Regions from separate parts of the Homo sapiens genome. Here region 2 is linked to region 1. A link means that fine-mapping ties the variant in region 1 to the expression of a gene that starts in the linked region. Tissue or cell type: whole blood. Region 1 holds a variant in brackets; the other region holds the start of a gene. All regions are shown on one strand. Distances are between the middles of the regions.

Region 1 (4,255 bases):
TTATAGACGGGTAAGCAGAGGCCCAGAAAGAACCTCCTGTTGGTCATTTTCTAGGGACAGAAGAAGGACTCAAAGTGGCTTCATCAAACAGGGAACTGAGGCCGGGTGCAGTGGCTCATGCCTGTAATCCCAGCACTTTGGGAGGCCAAGTCAGGTGGATCATTTGAGCTCAGCAGTTCGAGACCAGCCTGGGCAACATGGCAAAACCTTGGCAACAAGGCTTGAGCCTGAGGCTGAGGCTGGAGGATCACTCGATCCTAGGAAGTGGAGGTTGCAGTGAGCCAAGATGGTGCTACTGCACTCCAGCCTGGGCAACAGAGTGAGACCCTGTCTCAAAAAAGAAACAAAAAATAAAAAAAAATATTTATTTATTTATTTATTTATTTATTTATTTTTTGAGACGGAGTCTCGCTCTGTCGCCCAGGCTGGAGTGTAGTGGCACAATCTCGGCTCACTGCAACCACCCCCTTCCAGGTTCAAGCGATTCTCCCGCCTCAGCCTACCAAGTAGCTGGGATTATAGGCGCTTGCCACCACGCCCAGCTAATTTTTGTATTTTTAGTAGAGACGGGGTTTCACCATGTTGGCCGGGCTTGTCTCAAACTCCTGACCTCAGGTGATCAGCCCGCCTCTGCCTCCCAAAGTGCTGGGATTACAGGCGTGAGCCACCATGCCCGGCCTAAAATATTTTTTAAAAACAGGAACCAGATGGAAAATATTGGGTTTCAGGTATGGCTGGATCCAGGAACTAATGCTTCATCTCGGTGCTGCTGTCCTCCCTGCAGGCTCCTCTCTCAGACAGGCATCCCCACGGTAGGAAGGAAAGAGGCTCCAAGCTCCAGGCTTCCCTCTGTCCAGCTCAGTCTCCCGCTAGTGGAAGCAGGGTGTGCATCTTCCCCATGCACTCTGGCAAAAGTCCCAGCTGCTGCCAGTAAACATTGCCTGTCTCCTACTTCTCGCACCCAAGGGACTGTGCATAGGGGTGGGTTTGCAGCCAACTCCAGGGGCCTCCAGGGCTCACACCTGCAATCCCAGCAGTTTGGGAGGCCGAGGCGGGTGGATCACTTGAGGTCTGGAGTTCAAGACGAGCCTGGCCAACATGGTGAAACCCTGTTTCTACTAAAAATACAAACACATTTTAGCTGGTCAGGGTGGCGGGCGCCTGTAATCCCAGCTACTTGGGAGGCTGAGGCAGGAGAATCGCTTGAACCCGGGAGGTTGCCGTGAGCCAAGATCGCGCCATTGCACTCCAGCAACAAGAGCCAAACTCCGTCTCAGAAAAAAGAAAGGAGGATAAACGCTCAAGGGAGGGCATGCCTGGTGGAGGGAACGGCTTGAGCAGAAGCTGGGATGTGGCAGATCCGGAGCGGGGCGGGGGGCATTTGCAGAACTCTGACCAGCCACCGTGTGGCTGGGGCACCGAGATCCAGGCCTCTGTTTCCCTATCTAGATGCATCGATGGGGAAAGGGAGGCCCCCAGACCAAAGGGGCGGGGCCTGGGCCTCTTGCCTCCTGGCCCTATTGGCTGCCAGGGGTCTCTCCCCGAGAGGTCTCATCCTTTTTTTGCCACAAAATTCAGTAGTTCTGGGCTTTTTAACTCCCCTCCTCTGTCTGAAACCGGAAAAGTCTGTTTAGCAAACGCGGTGGGAGGAGGCAGGGCGGGCCCGGCCGGGGAAACGCGCGCCGCTGTTGCCACCTGGTGGCCATGGGGAGAATCTGGACTACCCGCTAATCGCCAGGGCTGGGGTGGGATTTCAGGAGCCCCCCCCCACACCTCGGCTCAGACCGCAGTGGGGATCAGGGGGAGGCGGCTGCAGAACGCGAGGGAGGTGGGGCAGTGTGGGCAGAAAGAGGGAGGATTCAGGGTGTGTAAGGGGGGCAAGGGTCCTGCTGCGAGTTGGTGGGCGTGAGGAGGAAGGAGCGTGGGGGCAAACCACGGTTCCTGTTACCGGAGTGCCCGGCTGCTCCACTCCCCCTAGGCCGTCCCTTCCCCTGCTCAGTCCTAACTTAGTAGGGTTCCAAGCTCTCATCCGGCTCTGTCTCCCCCGGATTAGGTGCTCCTGGAGGAGACCTAGAGGAAGAGATTAATAAATATATGTGGAATGAATGAATGAATGAATGAATGAATTCCAAGGCTCGTGTTTTGAGATTTTGAGCAGGACATTCAAGCTTCAAACAGGAAAAAAATACCCAAGAGGAGGCTCATTTACGATGATTTTGAACAGCTGTGTAAGGTCATTATCACCACCCCCATTTTATAGGGGGGTGAGGGTGGGGTGGGGGGTGGGATGGGAGGACCGTCATTTTTCCCACAA[A/T]GTTTACAGCCCCCTTCCCTATATGCCTGGATCCTCCAAGCTACAAGACCCCGCAATGCTGCAGGGAGCCCTTGAGTCCAGACTCCCCATCCAGTGCTCCTGGGGGTGGATGCCCAGCCCAGGGTCCAGGGATCCATCTGAGCCCCCCTTGCCCCCATTCCCAGTCCATTCTACGCCAGAACAGGTAAATGGCAGGGTCTGCTCCTGCCCCACGGATGCCAGGCCCAGCAGGGTGCAGCAGCTTCCATTTCATGGCAGCATCTAGGGTTCCCCCGCAGGATGGGTGGCAACAGGCACGGGGCAGAGAGGAGGCAGGTGCACTGGAGCCTGGAGGAGCTCTGGGTTATTTGGGTCCAAATGTGACTCCTGTGTGTGCTACGTAGCCTCGGGCGAGTCACTCACCCTCTCTGAGCCTCAACGATCACATCTGTAAAGTACAACAGTCATGGTTCCTTTCAGGGGGTGGTTGTAGGGATTTGGTAGGGAATCATGTGAGTGGATGGAATGGGCTGGGTATGCCATAAGTGCTTAATAACCAGCCGTTGTGATTGAGATAGTCGCTCTTCGTGTCTGTAAGACAAAGTGGATGTTTTCGTTTCTCCCTCAGGCCTCCAGGCCCTGATATCCCAGGAGCGATGGATGTCTAGCCCCCCCACCCCCCGGGCAGGGTTGCACCCCTGACCGTCTGGCCCACTGGGCCCCAGGACCTTGGCCTTGCACCTGTCTCCATCCTCCAAGGACAACTCTGTATCCAGGGCCAGCTCAGGGGCACCCTCAGGTAGCTCTGTCTTCTCGAGAGGCTCAGTCCTCTCGCCTTTGTCCCAGGACATCTCTACCACCAGGGCCTCCTGCAGGGATGCCTCTTCCTGGAAGTCCACTGGGTTGATCCACTGCCAAGTCTGCAGAGGGAGGGTAGGGCCACAGCTGTGAGCAGAGCTCTACTTCCCATCCACAGCAGGATGGAACGGACCAGGTCACTGCTGGTTAAATTCTCTAACATCCTGAGACCTGGACGGGTGCAGTGGCTCACACCTGTCATCCCAGCACTTTGGGAGGCTGAGGCGGGTGGATCACTTGAGGTCAGCAGTTTGAGACCAGCCTGGAGAACATGGCCAAACCCCATCTCTACTAAAAATACAAAAATTAGCTGAGCTTGGTTGCGCACGCCTGTAATCCCAGCTACTTGGGAGGCTGAAGCAGGAGAATCGTTTGAACCCGGGAATCAGAGGTTGCAGTGAGCCGAGATGGCGCCACTGCACTCCAGGCTGGGTGACAGAGCGAGACTCCATATATCCTGAGACCGATTTGAGGATGGAGTCTGCCGCACTGACTCCCATTCAGCCCCTCTTAGGAAGAGCACTCCCATCTGTCTTTGGGAAATTTCCCTCCCTCTTTTCACAGATGGTGTGGTTGACAGTGCAGTGACCCCACCTCAGCTCTAGCAATGGTCATGTGACCCTGGCCAGCCCACCCATCAGACCCTTCCCTACCCCTCTGGTTCTAGCCATAGGCTCAGGGAAGGGCATGTGACCCAAGCTGGACCAATCAGTGATGGCCCTGAGACTTTTGCCCCAGTTAATGGGGAAAATGGACACCCTGCTTCCAATCAGAGAAGGCTCAGCCTGCCTGCGGAAGAACCCTGAACGGGCAGCTCCGAGATAGACCCCAATCGCTGGATTCAGGCATATCTGAAGCCCATTCCCTTGGGATTTTTTCCATCAGGTTTCCTTTATAATAAAGCCACTTTGAATTCTGTTTCTAGTGCCAGGAAATGGACCTCTGCCTGCCTGTCTTTAAAATGGGAAGGGGTATGGAGCACTGGTTTTGGAGTCCTTACCTTGATGAATTGGGAGAGAATAAAATGAGCTAATGCGTAACCCTTGTCCAGCATGTGCACCCAATAAAAAGACTTGGAATTAGAAAAGGCATCCTTACCTCCTT
Region 2 (4,000 bases), 28 kb after region 1:
ACACTTGGCCCACTAGCAGTCAGGGCAATTATTAATAACATTTCTCCAGGAGGCAGCGACCTCCCTCAGCCACTGGGATCCCCGTGCCCTTTGGGATTGCCACAGTCTGCTAGGTGTGGAACTGGGTGAGAGAAGGAGGGGGATGCCACCATGGATGGGTCAGGAAGACCCCGGCGCCCTCACTCCCACAAGAAGGACCTGTCCTGAGCCCTGCAGGCAGATTGGAAGCCTTGGGGGAGAAGGCGGCACCCCAGGAAACAGCCCCAAGTGTCCAACCTTGAGGGGGGAAAGATGCTTAACACACAAGGCTCTCCATCCTTCCATCTCTCTCTGTGATGACACAGAACCCCCACCCACCCACCCACCCCTGAGAGCCTAAAGCCCATCCTCCTTCCCTTTCCCTGGACTGACCACTCACTGCCACTATCTCCAGGATACCTCGTGGGCTGCCTCTCGCCCCCTCCCTGCTGCTGGTCTCCAGCCATGCCTGGCCCCTGAAGGCGCTGGGACCTTGAGGTGTGGCCAGCACTGCTGTGGGCATTCTACAGGCACTCAGTGCATCTCAAGAGCCATTGAAAAAGTCAGCACCCCGCTGATCCCCAGTGTACAGAGAAGGAAAGTTTATTTATTATTATTATTATTGAGATAGAGTCTTGCTCTGCCACACAGGCTGGAATGCAGTGCTGCAATCTCGGCTCACTGCAACCTCTGCCTCCTGGGTTCAAGCGATCCTCCCACCTCAGCTCCTAAGTAGCTGGGAGTACAGGTGCCCATCATCAAGCCTGGCTAATTTTTGCATTTTTAGTAGAGATGGGGTTTCACCATGTTAGCCAGGCTGGTCTCGAACTCCTGACCTCAAGTGATCCACCCATCTTGGCCTCCCATAGTGCTGGATTTTCAGGAGTGAGTCACCGTGCAGGGCCTGAGATTATTAAAAGTATATGGGAAGGCTGGGCATGGTGGCTCATGCCTGTAATCTGAGCACTTTGGGAGGCCAAGGTGAGTGGATCATTTGAGCCCAGGAGTTCGAGACCAGCCTGGGCAACACAGCGAGACGCTGTCTCTGTAAAAAGTATACACCAAAAAAATTAACCAGGCATGGTAGTGTGCACCTGCAGTCCCAGCTACTCAAGGGGCTAAGGCAGGAGGATCACTTGAGCCCAGGTGGTCAAGGCTGCAATGAGTTATGATTAGGCCACTGCACTCCAGCCTGGGACACAGAGTGAGACCCTACCTCAGTAAATAAATAAATAAATAAATAAATAAATAAATAAATAAATAAATAAGTAAAGTATACGGAAGGATGTGCATAGGTTATATGCAAATACTTTACCATTTTATATCAGGAACTTGAGCATCTTTGGATTTTGGTATCTGCAGAGGGTCCTGGAACCATTGCCCCGTAAATATGGAAATGACTGTATACATTATATTATGTATGTCTATCTATTGTAAACTACATACATAAGATACTATACTATGTATACCTATTAGATACATACTTGCTTTTTATTCCTTCCTTAGTTTTTTTTCTCATTGAACTCCGGGAGGTGGAAAAAATTTAGTGCATTTCACAGAAGAGAAAATCTAGACCAGAGGAAAGATGTCTAAGTTCGATCCCAGAAGCCATGACTGCCCATCTCCCATTTGACAGCAGGAAAGACTGAGGCACAGAGAGATGAAACCAACCCACACAGCAGGCCCACAGCTCTCCACACATACACGTGCCTCCACCCAGCAAGAGGAGCCGCCATGCCAGGGTCAGGGGACTCACCGCCCTGCCTGGACAGCAGGAAGAGGAAGAGGAGGGGGACCACCCAGGTCACCAGCGGCTCCATCGGATCCACGTAGAGCCCCACAGCCCCAGGGGAGCCTCTCTGCCACCTGCGAGGTTCAGCCACCCCGTCCCCACTCCGGAACACATTGAAGCTGAGCAAGGAGAAAAGACTGAAAAAAAAGAAAAAAGAAAAAAAGTAAAGTGTCACAGCCCATCCCTAAGGCAAGTCAAAGTGAAAGAGAAACCCAGGAAGTCAGCTCCGTGGTGGTGGTGATGGTGGCGGCCACAGACTCTGGAGCAAGTCTGACTTTGGAGCAAGTCAGGGTTCTAGGGGGTTCTGCCCTGCTGGCCCCAGACCTGAACTGAACACCCAGATGCCAGCCCCATGGGCCCATGGGCCACCTGTGGTTCCATGCACTTGGCCAGGTCTCTGGCCCTCTCTAGCCAATTTTTTTTTTTTTTTTTGAGATGGAGCCCTGCTCTGTCGCCCGGGCTGGAGTGTGGTGGCATGATCTCCACTCACTGCAACTTCTGCCTCCCGGGTTCAAGCAATTCTCCTGCCTCAGCCTCCCGAGTAGCTGGAATTACAGGCAACTGCCACAACATCGAGCTAATTTTTGTATTTTTAGTAGAGACAGGGTTTCACCATGCTGGCCAGGCTGGTCTCGAACTCCTAACCCTAAGTGATCCACCCACCTCAGCCTCCCAAAGTGCTGGGATGACAGGCGTGAGCTACCGTGCCTGGCTGCCAAATTCTTTTTTTCTTCTTTTGAGATAGGGTCTTGATCTGTGGCCCAGCTGTAGTGCAGTGGTGCAATCACGGCTCACTGCAACATCAACCTCCCCAGGCTCAGGCCATCCTCCTACCTCAGCCTCCCCAGGAACTGGGACTACAGGCATGCACCACCACGCCCAGCTAATTTTTGCATTTTTTTTTTTTTAAGAGAGGGGGTTTTGCCATGTTGCCCAGGCTGGTCTCAAACTCCCGGGTTCAAATGATCCGTCCGCCTTGGCCTACCAAAATTCTGGGATCACAGGCGTGAGCCACCGCACCGGGCCATCTCGCCAGCTTCTGAATCTGAGACTCAAGAGCTGAAGGAGGGCAGTGTTCTTGGATGGCCTAATTTCATCCTTCCAACAAATTGTTACAAAGAGCTTGCAGCATGCTGGCCCTCCACAATGCCCACCTCCCCACATGCCAAGCTCCAGCCTTGTGCACCTGGGCTCACCCCTCTAATCCCAGCACTTTGAGAGGTCGAGGTGGGAGGATCACTTGACCCCAGGAGTTTGGGTCTACCTAAACAACATAGCAAGACCCCATCTCTATAAAAAATAAAGAATTAGGCCAGGCGCGGTGGCTCACGCCTGTAATCCCAGTACTTTGGGAGGCCAAGGCAGGTGGATCACGAGGTCAGGAGTTTGAGACCAGCCTGACCAAAATGGTGAAACCCTGTCTCTACTGAAAATACAAAAATTAACCGGGTGTGGTGGCAGGCACCTGTAATCCCAGCTACTGAGGAGGCTGAGGCAGGAGAATCGCTTGAACCCAGGAGGTGGAGGTTGCAGTGAGCCGAGATCGCGCCACTGCACTCCAGCCTGGGCAACAGAGTGACACTCCATCTCAAAATATATATATATATATAAATTAAAAGTTAGCCAGTCGTGGTGGCACACATCTGTATTCTCAGCTACTCAGGAGGCTGAGGTGGGAGAATGGCTTGAACCCAGGAGGTTGAGGCTGCAGTGAATCGTGATTGTGCCACTGCACTCCAGTCTGGGTAACAGAGCAAGATCCTGTCTCTTAAAAAAAAAAAAAAAAAAATTTAAGAGATGCAACTTAGTCTTTCCCCCATGTTCCATTTCTTAGCCTCTGAGTATTTTGTTTCCTGCCCCTCCCTCCCCACTGTCGGCAAAGCCTCTAAATGTCAGTGGAGAAGCTCTGATCCAAGCTACCATGTGGATGAACCCTCAAAAACATAATGCTGGGCTGGGTGCAGTGGTTCACATCTGTAATTCCAACACTTTGGGAGGCCGAGGTGGGCGGATCACCTGAGGTCAGGAGTTTGAGACCAGCCTGGCCAACAAGGCGAAACCCTGTCTCTACTAAAAATACAAAAATTTGCCAGGCCTGGTGACATGTGCCTGTAATTCCAGCTATTCGGGAGGCTGAGGCAGAGAGAATTACTTGAACCTGGGAGGTAGAGGTTGCAGTGAGCTGAGATC

What was found. PIP is the estimated chance that this variant, and not a neighbour inherited with it, causes the effect.
Region 2: it holds the start of IL12RB1, and the variant in region 1 is fine-mapped to the expression of IL12RB1 in whole blood (TOPMed, PIP above 0.99). The same link has a PIP of 0.9 or more in T cells and blood mononuclear cells.

The regions. Positions count from the first base shown.
Region 1 is chr19:18,056,873-18,061,127 of GRCh38, forward strand. It overlaps IL12RB1 (interleukin 12 receptor subunit beta 1), which reads right to left. Exons shown (of 17, transcript NM_005535.3): 15 at 4,250-4,255; 16 at 3,022-3,213; 17 at 2,123-2,741. The coding sequence ends at 2,736. Among named protein-coding and RNA genes, the nearest start is that of IL12RB1, 28 kb to the right of the region's middle. The variant A/T (reference allele first, on the strand shown) is at 2,315.
Region 2 is chr19:18,084,986-18,088,985 of GRCh38, forward strand. IL12RB1 (interleukin 12 receptor subunit beta 1) reads right to left here and starts at 1,949. Exons shown (of 17, transcript NM_005535.3): 1 at 1,775-1,949. The coding sequence starts at 1,838. RefSeq lists enhancers at 1,861-2,210, 2,221-2,280.